Linked DNA regions of Homo sapiens: region 1 is linked to region 2. Evidence: fine-mapped expression QTL. A gene starts in region 2. The other region holds a variant in brackets. All regions are shown on one strand. Distances are from middle to middle. Region 1 has its middle 12 kb from the start of ARMCX2. Region 2 holds the start of GLA (galactosidase alpha).

Region 1 (2,918 bases), 240 kb before region 2:
AGGCAAAAGAATCGCTTGAACCAGTGAGGTGGAGGTAGCAGTCAGCCGAGATGGCGCCATTGCACTCTAGCCTGGATGACAGAGCGAGATTCCATCTCAAAACATATATATGTATATATAAAGAAAAATGTTATGGAACTATAAAAAGAAATGAACAAATCAACAATCGCACGGAAGAATACAACATCTCTAAAGTATTTAAAGAATAAGGAGAACAAAAAGTATTCTATTAATATATCTTGATAGTAAAGATATAGAATATTGAGCAATGTGGTCAACAATCTGATTTAATGGATGTACACAAAATCCTGAACCAAATAATAGGAGAATACACTTTCTTCTCAAGCATAGAGGGACTGTTTATAATAATGATCATGAATTTGGCCATAAAACATATCTCAACAAATTTCCAAGAATCAGTGTCATAATAATCACTTTATTTGACCAAAATGCAATTAGGATAGAAATACATAACAAGGTAATATGTTTTAAAAACCATGTATTTGAAATTTTTTTTATTATACTTTAAGTTTTAGGATACATGTGCACAATGTGCAGGTTAGTTACATATGTATACATGTGCCATGTTGGTGTGTTGCACCCATTAACTCGTCATTTACATTAGGTATATCTCCCAATGCTATCCCTCCCCACTCCCCCAACCCTACAACAGGCCCCGGTGTGTGATGTTCCCCTTCCTGTGTCCAAGTGTTCTCATTCTTCAATTCCCACCTATGAGTGAGAACATGCGGTGTTTGGTTTTTTGTCCTTGCGATAGTTTGCTGAGAATGATGATTTCCAATTTCATCCATGTCCCTACAAAGGACATGAACTCATCATTTTTTATGGCTGCATAGTATTCCATGGTGTATATGTGCCACATTTTCTTAATCCAGTCTATCATTGTTGGACATTTGGGTTGGTTCCAAGTCTTTGCTATTGTGAATAGTGCCTCAATAAACATACGTGTGCATGTGTCTTTATAGCAGCATGATTTATAATCCTTTGGGTATATACCCAGTAATGGGATGGCTGGGTCAAATGGTATTTCTAGTTCTAGATCCCTGAGGAATCACCACACTGACTTCCACAATGGTTGAACTAGTTTACAGTCCCACCAACAGTGTAAAAGTGTTCCTATTTCTCCACATCCTCTCCAGCACCTGTTGTTTCCTGACTTTTTAATGATCACCATTCTAACTGGTGTGAGATGGTATTTCATTGTGGTCTTGATTTGCATTTCTCTGATGACCAGTGATGATGAGCATTTTTTCATGTGTCTGTTGGCTGCATAAATGTCTTCTTTTGAGAAGTGTCTGTTCATATCCTTCACCCACTTGTTGATGGGGTTGTTTGTTTTTTTCTTGTAAATTTCTTTGAGTTCTTTGTAGATTCTGGATATTAGCCCTCTGTCAGATGAGTAGATTGCAAAAATGTTCTCCCATTCTGTAGGTTGCCTGTTCACTCTTATAGTAGTTTCTTTTGCTGTGCAGAAGCTCTTTAGTTTAATTG[G/A]ATCCCATTTGTCAATTTTGGCTTTTGTTGCCATTGCTTTTGGTGTTTTAGACATGAAGCCCTTGCCCATGCCTACGTCCTAAATGGTATTGCCTAGGTTTTCTTCTAGGGTTTTTATGGTTTTAGGTCTAACATTTAAGTCTTTAATCCATCTTGAATTAATTTTTGTATAAGGTGTAAGGAAGGGATCCAGTTTCAGCTTTCTACATATGGCTAGCCAGTTTTCCCAGCACCATTTATTAAATAGGGAATCCTTTCCCCATTTCTTGTTTTTGTCAGGTTTGTCAAAGATCAGATAGTTGTAGATATGTGGCATTATTTCTGAAGGCTCTGTTCTGTTCCATTGATCTATATCTCTGTTTTGGTACCAGTACCATGCTGTTTTGGTTACTGTAGCCTTGTAGTATAGTTTGAAGTCAGGTAGTGTGATGCCTCCAGCTTCGTTCTTTTGGCTTAGGATTGACTTGGCAATGTGGGCTCTTTTTTGGTTCCATATGAACTTTAAAGTAGTTTTTTCCAATTCTATGAAGAAAGTCATTGGTAGCTTGATGGGGATGGCATTGAATCTGTAAATTACCTTGGGCAGTATGGCCATTTTCACAATATTGATTCTTCCTACCCAGGAGCATGGAATGTTCTTCCATTTGTTTGTATCCTCTTTTATTTCATTGAGCAGTGGTTTGTAGTTCTCCTTGAAGAGGTCCTTCACATCCCTTGTAAGTTGGATTCCTAGGTATTTTATTCTCTTTGAAGCAATTGTAAGTGGGAGTTCACTCATGATTTGGCTCTCTGTTTGTCTGTTATTGGTGTATAAGAATGCTTGTGATTTTTGCACATTGATTTTGTATCCTGAGATTTTGCTGAAGTTGCTTATCAGCTTAAGGAGATTTTGGGCTGAGACGATGGGGTTTTCTAGGTATACAATCATGTCATCTGCGAACAGGGACAATTTGACTTCCTCTTTTCCTAATTGAATACCCTTTATTTCCTTCTCCTGCCTGATTGCCCTGGCCAGAACTTCCAACACTATGTTGAATAGGAGAGGTGAGAGAGGGCATCCCTGTCTTGTGCCAGTTTTCAAAGGGAATGCTTCCAGTTTTTGCCCACTCAGTATGATATTGGCTGCGGGTTTGTCATAGATAGCTCTTATTAGTTTGAGATATGTCCCATCAATACCTAATTTACTGAGAGTTTTTAGCATGAAGGGTTGTTGAATTTTGTCAAAGGCCTTTTCTGCAGCTATTGAGATAATCATGTGGTTTTTGTCTTTGGTTCTGTTTATATGCTGGATTACGTTTATTGATTTGCATATGTTGAAGCAGCCTTGCATCCCAGGGATGAAGCCCACTTGATCATGGTGGATAAGCTTTTTGATGTGTTGCTGGATTCGGTTTGCCAGTTTTATT
Region 2 (2,871 bases):
TTACATTTGCTGTACTGGGATTTTTTCTTTTTAAGTTAGAAAGAACATATTAGTGGTTACTCTGAGTGGGAGGTTTATGGATTTTCCATGTTATTTTTCCAATTTTTTTATGCAGCCTTAAATTTCTACAGAAATAATTACTTTTACTTCAGCAAAAAAAGTAACATAAAACAAATTAAAATGTTTGCATTTCTGGGATTTGGTATAGGAAATTTTATAAAATTTTCTAATTTTGTATGTGGATGGTTTATCTGAAATGGTCTGGGAGCACTGGGCCTCTTGGAAACAAAGTACAAAGTGTAATAACGGCCATAAAACTACACTGAGGAAACGATTTAACAAACATTTACTGATTGCCGATTATGTGCCTAGCACACTGCATCTGCAGTGATAACAGTTTTCCTATTAACCATCCTAAGGTCTCAGTGACAGATTTACAAGCTGTTTTTTTATTTCATTTTGCAGGATTTTTTTTTTTTTTTTTGCTTGCCTTATCCCTGGGATAACCCGTCCCATTTAATTCCCTGCACCGCTCTATTCCTTAAGAGCCCTTCTGTAGGGGCAGAGAGGTTCTACTTCATTACTGCGTCTCCTGGGAAGGCCATCAGGACTGCTGGCTAAAGTGGGAACCAGGACTCTTTGTGAGTTAAGAATTTGTGTATTTATATGTGTGTTATACACATTTTTTAAAAAACTGTAACGACATCAGGTTGAGCAGTCGTCTCCGGGTGGTGAATTATGTGTATTTTTAAATTTTATACTATATTGTTATTTTTCAAATGTTCGAAATTGAATATGTAGATTGTTGTTATCAGCAGAAAAATAAACATTATTCAAATACTCTATTCAGTAAAGTAATTTATTGGGCGCCTTTGTCAAGCACGCATTTGCCTAGATGTGACTCTACAGATAAAATTCACTTGGGGCCTCCCCTTACAGACAATCAGGCAGTGGAGACTGAGTGCCTGAATGGATAGACCAGCACTCAGACCACTATTTTCAGTATCTGTTTTTCTTAACTCAGGGCCGTGGTTTTCAAACGTTTTTCGCCTTACGGTCACCCTTAGGGGTCCCCCGAGACCGGCCCAGACAGACAGATATACAAAAACACATACACAGTCATGAGCGTCCACCATTTCCCCACCAGGCGCAGCACAGGCGGCTTCCCGGCACTGAGATGGGGGGGAGGAGGGAGAGAGCGCGAGGGGGGAGGGGAAAGCAGAGAACGAAAGAGGCGGAGGCGGCCCCCGAACCCCGCTCTGGTCTTCATCATCACCACCCCTGGGTCCCCAGTTCCCACCCACACACCAACCTCTAACGATACCGGGTAATTTTCCTCCTTCTTCCCTCAAACGGCTATAGCGAGACGGTAGACGACGACCAGAACTACTTCTGCTCACGTAAGCGAGTAATCACGTGAGCGCCTACGTCATGTGAGATCTCGGTCACGTGAGCAACTCTCGGCTTAAACTCGGGATCACTAAGGTGCCGCACTTCCTTCTGGTATGGAAATAGGGCGGGTCAATATCAAGAAAGGAAGAGGGTGATTGGTTAGCGGAACGTCTTACGTGACTGATTATTGGTCTACCTCTGGGGATAACCGTCCCAGTTGCCAGAGAAACAATAACGTCATTATTTAATAAGTCATCGGTGATTGGTCCGCCCCTGAGGTTAATCTTAAAAGCCCAGGTTACCCGCGGAAATTTATGCTGTCCGGTCACCGTGACAATGCAGCTGAGGAACCCAGAACTACATCTGGGCTGCGCGCTTGCGCTTCGCTTCCTGGCCCTCGTTTCCTGGGACATCCCTGGGGCTAGAGCACTGGACAATGGATTGGCAAGGACGCCTACCATGGGCTGGCTGCACTGGGAGCGCTTCATGTGCAACCTTGACTGCCAGGAAGAGCCAGATTCCTGCATCAGGTATCAGATATTGGGTACTCCCTTCCCTTTGCTTTTCCATGTGTTTGGGTGTGTTTGGGGAACTGGAGAGTCTCAACGGGAACAGTTGAGCCCGAGGGAGAGCTCCCCCACCCGACTCTGCTGCTGCTTTTTTATCCCCAGCAAACTGTCCCGAATCAGGACTAGCCCTAAACTTTCTCTGTGTGACCTTTCCTGGGATGGGAGTCCGGCCAGCGGCCCCTGTTTCTTTCTCTCTCTCTCTCTCTCTCGTTCTCCTTCTCTTTCTCTTTCTCTTCTTTCCTCTCTCTTTCTCTCTCTCCCTGCCCGGTTCTCTTTTTTCACTGCTCCTTGCAGAGCAGGGCCACCCCATAGGCAGTGTGCCCAAAGTAGCCCTGCCCGGTTCTATTCAGACCCTTCTTGTGAACTTCTGCTCTTCCTCTGCCGGGTGCTAACCGTTAGAACATCTAGGGTGGGTAGGAGGAATGGGGAACTAAGATTCGTGCCATTTTTTCTCCTTTTGGGGTCGTGGATTTCTCGGCAGTATCTCGAGGGAGTTAGAGAGACCATAAGGTCGCTGAGATCTCTCCCACCTCGCCCATGAGCGTGGCATCAGGCTGGAAGGTTGACATGGAGGAACTTTATACATTTACACCTTTGCGTGAGGGTTGAGGCTGGATTAGATAGGTATTGAACATATCTGACCCTCACAATCCTTATCTGTAAATTGGGATTACAACCTTTTAATTTCAGGGAGCTGACAAAAAAAATCTGAAAAATAGTTCTTATCTCACACAGGTGAGTTTTCAAGGAGATAACCTATTTAAAGTACATAGCACAGCGCTTGACCATTCAACTGCGCTTACAGAGCAAATGTTCAATGGGAAAATGAATGTAAATCTACAAATCTGAATGAATATGTGTATTTTTCTGGAGAGAGGATATTTACCTTTCTTCAAATTCTCAAAGGGCT

The links.
Region 1: its variant is fine-mapped to the expression of GLA in whole blood (TOPMed, PIP above 0.99).

What each region holds. Positions count from the first base shown.
Region 1 is chrX:101,646,215-101,649,132 of GRCh38, reverse strand. No RefSeq gene overlaps it. Among named protein-coding and RNA genes, the nearest start is that of ARMCX2, 12 kb to the left of the region's middle. The variant G/A (reference allele first, on the strand shown) is at 1,513.
Region 2 is chrX:101,406,761-101,409,631 of GRCh38, reverse strand. GLA (galactosidase alpha) reads left to right here and starts at 1,707. Exons shown (of 7, transcript NM_000169.3): 1 at 1,707-1,922. The coding sequence starts at 1,729. The region is part of intron 3 of RPL36A-HNRNPH2 (RPL36A-HNRNPH2 readthrough); the gene reads right to left. HNRNPH2 (heterogeneous nuclear ribonucleoprotein H2) reads right to left here and starts at 1,410. Exons shown (of 2, transcript NM_019597.5): 1 at 1,313-1,410.